Linked DNA regions of Homo sapiens. The gene in region 4 interacts genetically with the main gene of each other region. Each region holds a gene or a part of one and is shown on either strand. Other genes may lie near its edges.

Region 1 (2,772 bases), on a different chromosome or scaffold from region 4:
CAGGGACATTTTAAACCATTGGGCCTATGGCATCGTGTCCTTTTGGGAACATCTGCTGTGAGGCAGGTCACATGAAGGTGGCCTCTGAGGGAGACAGGAGCAAAGATGAGGGAGGATGCAGCATAGGTGGGGCCTGGATCTGCAGCTGAGTTGGGAGCAGAAGGAACAGCCAGTGCGGAGGCCACCCTCTTGTGGAGGCCTGGGGGTCCCTGTAGGTTGCCCGACCCACTGTGACCCTGAGCCTCTTCCCACAGACCATCAAGTGCCTGCTGATCCACCCTAACCCCGAGTCTGCACTCAACGAGGAGGCGGGCCGCCTGCTCTTGGAGAACTACGAGGAGTATGCGGCTCGGGCCCGTCTGCTCACAGAGATCCACGGGGGCGCCGGCGGGCCCAGCGGCAGGGCCGAAGCCGGTCGGGCCCTGGCCAGTGGCACTGAAGCTTCCTCCACCGACCCTGGGGCCCCAGGGGGCCCGGGAGGGGCTGAGGGTCCCATGGCCAAGAAGCATGCTGGCGAGCGCGATAAGAAGCTGGCGGCCAAGAAAAAGACGGACAAGAAGCGGGCGCTGCGGCGGCTGTAGTGGGCTCTCTTCCTCCTTCCACCGTGACCCCAACCTCTCCTGTCCCCTCCCTCCAACTCTGTCTCTAAGTTATTTAAATTATGGCTGGGGTCGGGGAGGGTACAGGGGGCACTGGGACCTGGATTTGTTTTTCTAAATAAAGTTGGAAAAGCAGCTTCTGTGTCTCACAGATGCCCCAGGACCGCTGCATGGTGCCATGTGGCTCTGGGAGTTTGGCTCCCCTGCACAGGCCCTGGGTCCTTGTAAAGCCTCATGGACTGCAGCAGTGGGTCCATCTAGCTCACCAGCCTTGCTGTTTGAGGTTTGGGTCCACCTCTTTGTTCTGTGGAGGTAGAGCGGTCACAACCCCTCTTTGGAGTCAGATTTCCAATCTAAAATGGGGCGAGGACCTGGAGCTGCTCCTGGTGGCCTGAGCGGCACTGCCCTATACTTCTCCCTCTAGAATAATGGCCACGTTGGTGTGGCAGTGGTGTTCCTGCTCAGGACGGCCAGGTGCCAGCAGTCTGGCATGAGGCTCGCCTCGTCTGTCTGGTTCTGGACTGGGCCAAGGTTCGGTCCCCTTGAATCATCTGATCCTGCTTTGTGCTAAAGATTGGTTTTTCCCTTGTGGGCAGCAAAGCCTGTTCCCACATGTATTTCTGCACAACAGATCACAAAGCCAGCGGCTTAAAACAACACCCACTTCAGACTTTGTGTTGGAAGTCTGGACACGGCTGAGCTAGTCTCTGCTCAGTGCTTTGCAGGCTAAAATTGAGGTATTGGTTGTTGGTGTTCCTTAGTCTGGGTCCTCTTCCATGCTCATGGTTGTTGGCTGATTTCAGTCCTCGTAGAACTAGGGTCTTAGCTCCAAGAAGCTGCCCCTCCTTGGGCCCTGGCAGGTCTGATTTAAGGGCCCATTCCCTTTGAGGTGCTCACCGGATTAGGTCAGGCCCATCCAGATACTTAAGTGATAATGACTAAATCACAGGGGTAAGATCCCAGCTTAGTCTTAGTTTCTGCCCTCAAGGGGAAGGGATTAACCTGGGTGTGCACACCAGGGGGTGGGGAAACTTCCCATTCTATTAATGCGTTTAGGTTATTTAGACCAATGTCTCATTAATTTTAAAAAAATTAAAAATAGGCCAGGCGCAATGGCTCACGCCTGTAATCCCAACTTTAGGAGGTGAAAGGATCACTTGAGGCCAGGAGTTAAAGACGAACGTGGGCAACACAGTGAGATCCCATCTCTACAAAAAGTAAAATACATTTACAATAAAAATCTACAAGTTCTGACCCATAGGAGAGTGGAAAACTCAAAGGCTGCTTTTGTCCTGAAAGAATTTGCCTATTCTAATAAAACAGCTGAGGTTGAAACGGCTCAGCCTCTGAAAGGGGTCTGACCCTTCCTTGAGCCCTTGCCTCCAGTGACAATCTCCCAAGCTAAGGGAGAAAAGGAACCAAAAGTCTGCACTCCTCTCTACCTCTAGCAGTGCAGGGAGCGAAGGAAAGACAAGGGAAGAAACCCTTCAGATTTTCAGATCAAATTCACATCACTGGCCATCCAAGAAATCTTAAGCTCTGCGTTTATCGTCAACCATTTCTGCATGAGGGAAGCAAACAGTCCTTGCTGAAGGAAGGTGCCTGCATCCTGGGCCTCGGAACCCACTGAAATAATTTAGCGAAGTGCATAATAAAAATAATATTTGCCCTTAGCCCTGACAGAGTTCCTCAATCCCTTGGAATCTCCTGGGTATTAATAGGAGCAGTCTTTGTCCTAATGAAGCCATCTGTGATGGGCCCCTGCGTAGCTTCAGGAAGGGGGTTGGTCACTAGAAATACCAAGACCGAATTAGACAGTTGGGAATTTCAGCCCCACCCATACCTACCAACCTCTGGGAAGAGAGGGGCTGAAGGTTGAGGTCAATGACCAATGGTCAATGATTTGTCTAATATGCCCATGTAATGAAACCTCCGTTAAAACACTAAACAAGGTTGGGTGGGGTGGCTCACGCCTGTAATCCTAGCACTTTGGGAGGCCAAGGCGGGCAGGTCACCTGAGGTCAGGAGTTCAAGACCAGCCTGGCCAACATGGTGAAACCCTGTCTCTACTAAAAATACAAAAATTAGCTGGACGTGGTGGTGCATGTCTGTAATCCCAGCTACTTGGAAGGCTGAGGCAGGAGAATCTCTTGAACCTGGGACACAGAGGTTT
Region 2 (3,985 bases), on a different chromosome or scaffold from region 4:
CAGTCTCCTGTATGTTTGGAGTTCTATCATCTTAAAGAAAAATATATTTATACTTTAAGAAGGTCTCTTTTTATGCCAAACTAAAACCAACACAAATTCTCTGGGAATTTAAGAAACACACTACACAGCATTAGACATACTAATCACATATTTTTAATTCAGCAGCAAAATTTGTTTAGTAGAATGGGTATGAGGTATTTAAGTGATTTAAAAAAAAAATATATATATATATGTATACACACACACACCTCCAATCGAACACCACACTAACTTGTCACTCCTATTCCACTAAATTCCCTCCAGTATTCCCCCTTGTTTTTCACTATTTCTTGTCAAGTGGGGTCTTTGATCACATTAAAAATATAGTTGGGAATTTTCTTCTGGCAGAACCTATATAAACTGGATTCTATTAGCAAATTATTTTGTACCTGGAGAATCGAGAATGTTCTGCTGGAGTCGAGGAACAGGCGAAGGGATATACCCCTCATTTGTGCCATATATAGATCTAAACATTCCTTCAAGTACCACAGAAAGGGAAGGATTATATACATAAGTTATAATTTTAGAATAGCTTAAACATGTCTATATGACAGGTCATTTATACTTAGGGTAACTAAATAGAAATTTTATTTAAATTAGATTAAGTCAATTATTGTAACCAGTCTATAAAGTCTGGATAAAAATATTTATCATCCTAAAAACAATTGAAAGAGACTAAAACTAAAAATATATTATGAAGTTAGCATAATTCTGCAGCCCTAACCTCTGCCCCTCAACACACATGCAAGTTATCAATAGTGTCTTCAAAATACAAGTACTACTATAAGTGTTTAGTATCAGAAGACTGTAAGACTATGGGGGTGAGGCGAACGGTCATTAGGGATTCGGTAATTTCAATTCTCTTGAAATGTGAGCAAATTTGCGTTTATTAAGTAAAGAACATATGTTAATGCACACTGGTACTACAAGACAACTTAATGGTTGAATTTTAATAAATATTTAAATGTGTTCATATTACAGAAGTTGTAGCATTGTTAAATCATTCCATAAAATTTATTTTACTAAAACCACTCACCTTCTCCAATTTTCTCTATTTTGGTATAATCTTCCATAGTTAGTCAATGGGTATGGTAGATCCTAAAGTGAAGGAAAAACTGACTTAATTACATGCCACTAACTCGAGTAGTTTTAAGCATTAATGAAACACTATATGTAAAGCATTTTCCACAGTGCCTACTGCAGCATAAGTATTCCATAAATATTAATTACATTCAAACAATATTTACAAGGGTAAGGACTCCTACAATAACTTTCCATCCTTCTTGACTCCTGAGACATTGGAAACGTGTATATTCTATACTAGTGTAGTATTTAGCTTCTTCCAATCAAAATAACCCTCAAATTCAGGTATCAACTTGTCTATTCTTTCCAAACAAAAACCAGAATTATGTTCCCTTTTTGTGACACTTTAAAGTAGTACCTGCGTGTGCCAAAGTTATACCCAAATATTTCAACAAATTTATACCGCTTTATGATACTCCTAATTTTATTCAAAACATTATTTTTTAAAGTTATGAGGACAGAACTAAAATGTGTTCAGACTGTTCATTAGGAAAATTTTGTTTAAAACGACAAAAACATTTTAAGTGTTTACAGTTGCCCACGTGACAATTTTAATCTTTTTCCTCTGCTTGCTGAGGTCACAGACAAACATGCTCAAGACTTTCAAGGTACTTTTTCCAAGAGTAGGAAATATCACTTAAGCACCGTAAAACAAAAGAATGAAAAGTGCAATTCCACAGATAAAATTCTAATTATAACCTAAACAATGTCAAGGACTAAGCAGAAAAACGGTATACTTGAATCACAATGAATGGGTTAAAAAAAAAAGCTGACAACCAGAAGTTCAAGACTTCCTCTGAAGTTTGCCAATGAAACGTCAGAACTCCAGGCATAATTACCTAGATTTTTCTAACACCCATCACTGATGATAAAATCATTTATAAAGCACACTCAGAATAGACCTTTAAGTTCTATTTCTCACATTCATCTTCAAAGAAAAATCAATCCAGAAAGAAGCAGAGATGTATCTTTTTAAATGAAAAAAACTGCACTACACTGCTCATGAGAGTTAAGTGCCTGGGCTGACTGTTCTTAACAGCTCCAGGTGGGCCGGGGCCGTGGGCAGAGCAAGCCCAAGAAGGCCCACGAGTTCCAGGATCGGTTTCTCAGGGCGGCCTGGCTCTAGGGACCCGCGCCTGTACCTGGCCCAGGTGCGGTCCCACTTTCCCACCCCCGAGGCGGGATGGCAGGGCGCGCAGGGGCCGGGCCCAGGAAAGAGCCTGCTACTCCGCAGGCGCTCAGCGTGGGGGAGCGGATTTTGCTTCAATCAAGACCCGAAAGCCTCTTCAGGCAGTTCCTGAGAACAGCCGACCTCGACTCATGACTGCAGCCCCGAACCCCCACCCCCACGCCGCCTAACCCCGCCAGGCTGGGCTCCCATAGCCTCCCTCTAAAGCCAGCCCAGTGTGGCTCACACGGCCAGACCCAGGCGAAGGCCCTGCCCACCGCCCCCCGAGGCCCAGCCGGGCCCCGCGCAGATCCCTGACCTCCAGTCCGGCCTTCTTAGAGGACCCCGTTCCTCAATACTCGCCCTCCGAGGCCCTCGGCCGTCCCCTAGACACGACCCTGACCCCAGCCACTGTACCCGGCTTATTATTCCGCGGCGGCCGCAGCGGCAGCTACAACAACCGCGTCGCTCTCCGCTCAATTTCCAAGAGCCAGCTTTGAAGCCAAGTGCGAGCAGTTTCAAACTCACCGCGCTAAAGGGCCCCGGATTCACCAATCGGGTAGCCCGTAGACTTTCAAAGCAGCCAATCAGAGCCCAGCTACGCTGGGCAGGCCTTCCCGGGTGGCTAGAGCGCGAAAGAAAGAGGAAAGGGCGGCTAGAGAAAAAGCAGGAGGGCGGGCGCCAACTGAGTGCGAGCGCAAGCGCTCTCCTCCAGTCGGGAGAGTGTCGTCCTACTGTTTCTAGTCAGCGGAGCAGGAAGCTACTGTTCGCTCCGTTCTTCTTTTAAATTTTTTCTCCCAGCATTGGCACAGTTCAAATTTATTATACTCAAAATAGCTCATCAAAAAAGTGATATTGTGTTTACATCGAGATTCCATTACTTTCACTTCTAATACTTAGGGTTAGGAGTGTATAGTTATGTTTTTCTAAATGCGTGATTTGCGGGCTGGCTCCAAGGAGCACATTTCAGTGACCTTAAGAAGGAAATGGAAAACTCAAAAGACCGCCTCAAAAATGTAAAGGAAAATTTATTATTTATATCGCTGTGCTTTGTTTCTACCTCATTTTTGAATTTAATATTAAATTATTTTATTATTTACATTTTGTTTATTATACAATTAAAAACATTTGAAATGTATTAAATTTTAAAATATTTTCACATCAGAATTTTAAATATATAGAGAGAGGCATGCATTTAGAGACTGGGTCTCATTATGTTGCGCATGCTGGCCTCCAAATCCTGGGCTCAAGCAATCGGCCTCAGCCTCCAGCGCAGCTGCGACTACAGGCACTCGCCACCACGCCTGGCTTAAATATAATTAAAACACAAAAATTCACAATTCTATGAGGGGAGAGAAAGAGGCTTAAATTATGCTTTAAATAATCCAGTGTCAAAAACTCTGTCTTCATTGCCATCCATCATATCCTTGAGAGAGATTTCTGCACTTACTGCAGTTAATTTTTTTTTCCTTTTTCTTGTTCTTTCCTTCTTTCTCTCTTTCTTTCTTACTTTTTTTTTTTCTGTTTGTTTGCGGAGACAATGTCTCCTTATGTTGCCCTAGCTGGTCTCCAACTCCTAGGCTCCAGCAATCCTCCTGCCTTGGCCTCCCAAAGTGCTGAGATTACAGGCGTGAGCCACCAGCCCAACCTAAACACCATTCTAAAATCTTTTTAAAATAAACAAATAGAACAGTA
Region 3 (3,500 bases), on a different chromosome or scaffold from region 4:
TGCTGAGGGCCTTTTCTACCAGTGTTAGGGTGTAGCCCGGAGGTCTCGGTCCCCATGACCCGCAATTCCATTCCTAGTCTCCGGGACCCTGCTCAGCAAGTGCGGAAAACAGCGGGGCTGGTGATGACCCACCTGATCCTCAAGGACATGGTGAAGGTGAAGGGGCAGGTCAGCGAGATGGCGGTGCTGCTCATCGACCCCGAGCCTCAGATTGCTGCCCTGGCCAAGAACTTCTTCAATGAGCTCTCCCACAAGGTGAGAGGCAGAGAGGCACTGAGGGCTGGCTGCAGAGGGAATCTGTAGGTCACCTCATCTCCTTAACATGGCTCTCTCTGTCTTACAGGGCAACGCAATCTATAATCTCCTTCCAGATATCATCAGCCGCCTGTCAGACCCCGAGCTGGGGGTGGAGGAAGAGCCTTTCCACACCATCATGAAGTATTGCTCCCCGGGCCCTGGGGCACATTTTCCACATAGCACGGGCTTAGGAATCAGACACACCTGTATTTGAATTCCACCTCGGCTACTCTTTAGCTGTACAGCCTTCGGCAATAACTTAGCCTCTCTTTGTGCCTATTTCCTCTTCTTTTGAGGCTGATGATACTTAACCCTTAGTTCTTGAAAATATTAAATACGATAAAGTTCCTAACATGGTGGCAGACATACAGTAGCACTCACTCCCTAGCAGCTGCTCCTGTTAATTTCCATTCACAGTGAAAATTCCTGAGCCGGGGGCGGGGTGGGGTCCCTCTCTGCTGAATGGGACAGGGCAAGGGGAGTGGTGAGGCAGACAGGGGCCGTGGCAGAGAACATCAGAGAAGACGAGTGCTGGGGGAGGGTCCAGGGTTGGTCTTAGTGGATGGCAGAGCTGGCCCTGGGCCATCGAACATCCTCATCTCCCCTTCCTGCAGACAGCTCCTCTCCTACATCACCAAGGACAAGCAGACAGAGAGCCTGGTGGAAAAGCTGTGTCAGCGGTTCCGCACATCCCGGTATGCTGCCCTCCCTGAGGGTTCTTTGTGCTGAGCGGGGCCCTGCAGGGGAGAAAGGCCCATCCCTCACCCCTTCAATGCCCCCACTGTGGCATCCCTGGGACTGGGGAGGCTGATGGGGAAGGTTGAGCCTTTACTAGCTGGATCTCCCAGTTCCTCACAAAGCCCTTCCTATCTGCAGAACTGAGCGGCAGCAGCGAGACCTGGCCTACTGTGTGTCACAGCTGCCCCTCACAGAGCGAGGCCTCCGTAAGATGCTTGACAATTTTGACTGTTTTGGAGACAAACTGTCAGATGAGTCCATCTTCAGTGCTTTTTTGTCAGTTGTAGGCAAGCTGCGACGTGGGGCCAAGCCTGAGGGCAAGGTGAGCAGCACAGGACACTTCAATGCCTGTTGGGTTCTGGGCTGGCTAAGACATCTGCCGGCCCTGGGCAGCATACGGCTCTTGCAGTCACCTTCCCGTCCTCCTTATCCCCAGCTGGGTTGCAACCAAATTGCCAGAGTGACCTAAGACCAGATCTTTGTCTCCAGTTCTTTTTTTATTACTCCAAAAACACAACCAAAGCAGCATCTCATCCAATTCTTGTTTGTTTGTTTTTAATAGTTTTTATTTTTCAGAGCAGTTTTAGGTTCAAAGCAAAATTGAGCAGAAAGTACAGGGAGTTCCCTTCTACCCCTTGCCCCTACACATCACAGCCTTCCCCACCTTCAACATCCTGCACCAGGGTGGCACATTTGTTACAGCTGAACCTACACTTACACATCATCTCCTAAAGTCATGGTTTACCTTGGAGTTCACTGCACGTAATGACATGTACCCACCATTGCAGTATCATACAGAAGAGTTTCACTGCCTTACAAATCCCCTGCACTCCACCTATTTATCCCTCTCTCCCCACAACCCCTGATCTTTTTACTGTTGCCATCACTTTGTCTTTTCCAGAATGTATCATTGGAATGATCCGGTATGGAGCCTTCTCACCTTGGCTTCTTAGTAATGTGCGTTTAAGGCCTCCATGTCTTCCATGGCCTTGTTTCTTTTTAATCAGAAGTAACTGTTTTCAGGCCTGCTCTGAATCTCCTTTTCTCCCTCCAGGCTATAATAGATGAATTTGAGCAGAAGCTTCGGGCCTGTCATACCAGAGGTTTGGATGGAATCAAGGAGCTTGAGATTGGCCAAGCAGGTAGCCAGAGAGCGCCATCAGCCAAGAAACCATCCACTGGTACGTAAGGCAGCCTGTGCGGGCGAGACCAGACTGGGCCCTCCCCTCCTGCAGTGATTTGTTTCTTCTTCTTTTTTAAATCACGTTTTCCTGCCTTTTCTAGGTTCTAGGTACCAGCCTCTGGCTTCTACAGCCTCAGACAATGACTTTGTCACACCAGAGCCCCGCCGTACTACCCGTCGGCATCCAAACACCCAGCAGCGAGCTTCCAAAAAGAAACCCAAAGTTGTCTTCTCAAGTGATGAGTCCAGTGAGGAAGGTATGATGCTCCCGCCTGTTCCCGGCCGAGAAGGCACACAGCTAGGGTGCAGAGGGCTGGTTTCCATAGGACCTGCTGCGGGGGCCTGAGTGTAGATGCTCTGCCCCACTGCCGCAGAAGGGCCTCTCCTGTACAGCTTGGATTTTATTTCTTCTGTGCGGTGTGGGATTGTCTCACTTGTTCTCTGATATCTATTTTTTCACCATCTTTGTGACTCAGCTTTTTCTTATTCCTTTAATTCTTTGCATAGATCTTTCAGCAGAGATGACAGAAGACGAGACACCCAAGAAAACAACTCCCATTCTCAGAGCATCGGCTCGCAGGCACAGATCCTAGGAAGTCTGTTCCTGTCCTCCCTGTGCAGGGTATCCTGTAGGGTGACCTGGAATTCGAATTCTGTTTCCCTTGTAAAATATTTGTCTGTCTCTTTTTTTTAAAAAAAAAAAAGGCCGGGCACTGTGGCTCACGCCTGTAATCCCAGCACTTTGCGATACCAAGGCGGGTGGATAACCTGAGGTAGGGAGTTCGAGACCAGCCTGACCAACATGGAGAAACCCCATCTCTACTAAAAATAAAAAATTAGCCGGGCGTATTGGCGTGCGCCTGTAATCCCAGCTACTCAAGAGGCTGAGGCAGGAGAATCGCCTGAACCCAGAGGCGGAGGTTGTAGTGAGCCGAAATCACACCATTGCACTCCAGCTTGGGCAACAATAGCGAACCTCCATCTCAAATTAAAAAAAAAATGCCTACACGCTCTTTAAAATGCAAGGCTTTCTCTTAAATTAGCCTAACTGAACTGCGTTGAGCTGCTTCAACTTTGGAATATATGTTTGCCAATCTCCTTGTTTTCTAATGAATAAATGTTTTTATATACTTTTAGACATTTTTTCCTAAGCTTGTCTTTGTTTCATCTTTCACATTAGCCCAGTTTCATGCAGCAGAGAGAGGGTTATCAGTGCAGAGAGAGATGAGTGAGCCCAGAGTCCTAGGGCCTGTCCCGGGATGGCAGATGAGCTTCCTGCCCC
Region 4 (4,004 bases):
GGGGCAAAAGGGAGGAATGACACTATAAAAGGTCTGAGCCTTAACAAAGTGGTGCTATAGTTGTTAGTGGTAGAGCCATCTGGCTGAGATCCAAAGCTACTGCTTCAACATCTTGAGACAGGGATGGTACAATGGATGAAAAATCACTACTTGATGTCACGTCCTTCTTAGATCATGCCAGCTAAATAAAATCTGACTTGCAGATAGGCTAGGTAAATTAGGGCCAAACACATTTTAGAAAGTAAGGTTTTACAAGCAGATGTAAAACATGATTTAGCATTTCAATTATTATTAATCCAAGTGTGTAAGATACTTCATTCCAAGTCAAGTTAGGTTAAACGATACGATGTTAAATCAGTTTGTATATTGTTTATGGCCTAAAATCACTGTAAAATGTAAGAAATAAGCAAGTAGGAGTAAGAGGATGAACTACCACAGACATTATGTTAATGTCTATAAAACAAGTATATTCAAGTTAAAATGTTCCTTTCCAAAACATAGTTTAACTTGTAAGTCTACTCTACATGAATATTCATTATTTCTAATTCTCAAATGATAAATAACTAGAACTAATTTGAGGCAACTTCTGAGTAATTTATGCCTTAGAGTGACACTTGTGAATAGCCCACTCTAGCAGCTGCATTTTGTAAATAAAAAGTTTCTTCATTACTTGATTTACACAAATCATGTTTCACCCGAAACCTCTACACCCCACACAAGCTACTAATCCCTGCCCGGGACGCAAGGTTTAGACGAAAATTTGATGTTAATAATTTTTCATAGTAATAGGCTCAATTACTTTCCCTCCATTTGTACTCAGATTGTCCCATTATCAGTATTTCTACTTGTAATACTTTCCATTACCTTCTGTAAGACAAAAAACTAGTTCATTTTATTATTACACATCTTAAGATTAATTTTTAGTAATACAAAGACTGTGAGGAAAGTTTCATTACAATTAAAATAGATATGTAAAGTTTCTCAGGTTAACAATATATTGAATATACTCACTTTTGTTGTTTTTGTATAGAATGGGGAGGAGAGTTGGTGAACGGGCAGGTCCACAATACTACTGGAGTTCGTGACACTGTTAGTATGTGTATGTTCATCTTCTCTGCTACTATCATCAGACTGATCAAAATCGTCACTCTCCTGGTCCATCTCCTCCTCCTCCTCATCCTCCTCATCTTGTTCACCAGCATGTTCTTCATCTTCCTCTTGTTCTTCTTGGTTTCCTGAGGAGTCCTCATCTACCGAAATAAATCTATTATTGTTTTCTTCCAACTGTCCTTGCTGGGAATCATTTTGGCCTCCAGGTCTAGGTTCTACTCCAACAACTTCACCATTCCTTGCAGTGTGCTCCTCCTCTTGTTGTCTGAGTTGCTGTTGCTGTTCCTCCTCTACCACACGATTCATCTGTTCTTCATCTACCTGGCTTGAGGAAGGGTTACCTCTCAGAGAGCCTCCAGTTCGTCGTCTTTTGCTGCCCACAGAGAGCAGTTCCTGATTCATTTCCAAAAGCCAGCTTGCTACTTCTTGGACCTTGGCTAGACTATCAGAAGATGCAAAGGTTTTCACATTCTGCAGGGGAAAATAGGGTAAAAAACAAGATTTGTACAATCTATATTATGTTCTACTTTCATGTTATATGTCTACTTTCTAAATATCATTAATGATTGCAAAAAAGTATTGATGCCACCAAGGCATTAAAATGTTCTTTAGTAAACAATATAGAACATTTCAATTTTAAAAGTTATAAGACTTTATAAAGACATGCACAAAAACCATAGTAAACAACACTAATCCCTTTTAATAATTTTTAGCATGAAGATTTATAGTTTAATTCCTTTGACCAATAAAACATAATATTTCAAGCAAATAAAACAATTTTAATTTTACATCAGTAGTTCATAGACTATATCCTATATAAAACTTCCACAAAATTTTAAGAAGTGTATCAAAAAAAATTTTCAGTGTTCAGTTAATTTGGGAAATGCTGAGGTAAATCAGATTAAAAGGCTTTTTACCCTGGGTATTTCCCAAACTTTTCTGATCACAGAATCTTGCCTTCAGACACAGTTTTCTAGCAGGTAACAATTATAATCATTATTATTTTAATTTTTTTACAAATGACTGGACAGAAAATGAACAAAAAATTTATTTAAAAAAAAAGTTCATAAGTTCATACCCTCTGACCCAGTAACTCCACTTCTGGCAATCTATCCTAAGGAAGTAATCCTAAAACAGAAAAAAAAAATTTATACAGAGGATGCTCACTGCAGTTTATCCACGAAAGCAAAAAATAAAGATAAAAATAAATGTAAATAAAAATGTAAATAAAAATCCAAATGTTCAATATAAAGGAATCTATGAGATGGGATATATATGGTGTAATCCCTAAACATGACGTTCATAAAATATTTTTAAAAACATGGATGTTATAATATATTATGCTAAGGGGAAAATGCTGGAAATTGTGATTATAGTATGATTTTTAAACTGTATGAAGACTAGAAGACAACATTTCAAAATAAACTGCATCTTAGGCAGTGGTATTACTGATGCTTTAAACTTACTTCTTTTTATCATATTTCTCAATTTTTATATATCAAGCATGTTTGCCTTTATGTTTTTTAACCTAGGCTCTAGAATTTTATCTGATACAGCATCTTTTCATGATATTCATTCTTACATTTTATCCTTTGCTGGTATCTATATGGACATCTTTGAAGTCAGATAAAATGCCAACATGTTGTGCACACACAAGAAATTATGCACCCGTGATCTAAAACTTGAAACTGCTAACAAATGAAGTATTGTCAATTCTAGTCTTTTTCAGAGAAAACCTTTAGTATGATTTACAACAGTGTATCATAAAACACAAACATCAACAAACAGAAGCCCATATCCTAAAATTTGAGGAAGGTCTTTTATTTCTTCCTACCATAATACAAAATGTCAAGATATATCAAATATTAATATAGAACTTATTATTTTATCGGTAACTGATGTGACTGAACTTGAGTTCAGTAAAATAAAATCTGATGGCTAACAAACAACATTAAGTTGCATGGTTTTCTTGGCAACTGGACATGATGGGAATAGAAATGATTCAAGGTCAGGAAGAATACTAATAAAAGAAATAGAATTTTAAATTGAAAATGTTCCTCACTTTGCAGGCAAGGTAATCAAGGCTCAAAATGATTTAGTAAATTTCTCAAGATTACTAGTTTCAAGTAAAGCAGGGACAAGAATTTAACACCCAACTGAGTCTCCTTTCATGCACCTTAAAGTAACTACATAAAATCCTGAAAGAATATTATTCTCTAACACTGATACTGCCTTCTTTTCCAAAACTCGAATCACTACAATACTCAAAGATTATTACTCTAAAACAAATTATTTGCTGAGCATTCAATATGCTTCCTGTACATGTCAATTTTCTGGAGGATAATGTTTAGAATAATGTCTCTTTCAAGTTAACCAATGACATTTCATCTTTTTTGACCAGAACCCACAGTAAAATTATGTTTAACATCACAACTCTGCATGCATGCATTTAAACATATTAAAACAGTGATTTCAGAGAAAGGGAATTATGAAACATTTCTGGTATCTAAAGTCCCTATAAATCACCACCGTTAATCAAATACAGTTGATTCCCATTCACAGTAATTGTGTTCTATAAAATTGCTGCAACCACTGAATTAACAAATACTGAGCCATTGCTCCTAGGGGAAATACAGTTCTCACAAGCCTCTGGTCACAACACTGTTGCCAACTGATCAATGCATAACCTTTTTTATGCGTGTTTCTGCCTAAATATATCTTTAATATACATTGATTCATTAGCATCGAACTCATGGTCAACAGCATTATAACTAATGCCTGAATTAAGTTTCTTTAACACACATTAGTTTATCTTTAAGGCAAATTACAGCCTTCCTGCACTTCGGAACATTAAACAGAACTTCAGGCTATGTTTGGGGGCCATTCTAAACTGC

Evidence for each region. A genetic interaction does not mean that the proteins touch.
Region 1: changes in FBXW7 (region 4) and UBE2S together harm fitness more than expected from each alone (negative genetic interaction), as found in Homo sapiens cells (one large-scale study listed by BioGRID).
Region 2: changes in FBXW7 (region 4) and CDK1 together harm fitness more than expected from each alone (negative genetic interaction), as found in Homo sapiens cells (one large-scale study listed by BioGRID).
Region 3: changes in FBXW7 (region 4) and NCAPD2 together harm fitness more than expected from each alone (negative genetic interaction), as found in Homo sapiens cells (one large-scale study listed by BioGRID).

Annotation. Positions count from the first base shown.
Region 1 is NC_000019.10:55,399,245-55,402,016, reverse strand, and holds the end of UBE2S (ubiquitin-conjugating enzyme E2 S), read left to right. Parts: intron 1-254; coding exon 255-581; 3' UTR 582-2,272; downstream 2,273-2,772. UniProt on the Homo sapiens protein: Accepts ubiquitin from the E1 complex and catalyzes its covalent attachment to other proteins. Catalyzes 'Lys-11'-linked polyubiquitination.
Region 2 is NC_000010.11:60,777,293-60,781,277, reverse strand, and holds the start of CDK1 (cyclin-dependent kinase 1), read right to left. Parts: upstream 2,801-3,985; 5' UTR 2,708-2,800; exon of another isoform or gene 2,610-2,707; intron 1,138-2,609; 5' UTR 1,113-1,137; coding exon 1,076-1,112; intron 1-1,075. UniProt on the Homo sapiens protein: Plays a key role in the control of the eukaryotic cell cycle by modulating the centrosome cycle as well as mitotic onset; promotes G2-M transition via association with multiple interphase cyclins.
Region 3 is NC_000012.12:6,528,602-6,532,101, forward strand, and holds the end of NCAPD2 (condensin complex subunit 1), read left to right. Parts: intron 1-77; coding exon 78-255; intron 256-343; coding exon 344-438; intron 439-911; coding exon 912-992; intron 993-1,173; coding exon 1,174-1,357; intron 1,358-2,089; coding exon 2,090-2,216; intron 2,217-2,319; coding exon 2,320-2,475; intron 2,476-2,725; coding exon 2,726-2,811; 3' UTR 2,812-3,354; downstream 3,355-3,500. UniProt on the Homo sapiens protein: Regulatory subunit of the condensin complex, a complex required for conversion of interphase chromatin into mitotic-like condense chromosomes.
Region 4 is NC_000004.12:152,410,292-152,414,295, forward strand, and holds part of FBXW7 (F-box/WD repeat-containing protein 7), read right to left. Parts: intron 2,239-4,004; 5' UTR 2,189-2,238; intron 1,582-2,188; 5' UTR 1,513-1,581; coding exon 1,012-1,512; coding exon of another isoform or gene 982-1,011; exon of another isoform or gene 869-981; intron 1-868. UniProt on the Homo sapiens protein: Substrate recognition component of a SCF (SKP1-CUL1-F-box protein) E3 ubiquitin-protein ligase complex which mediates the ubiquitination and subsequent proteasomal degradation of target proteins.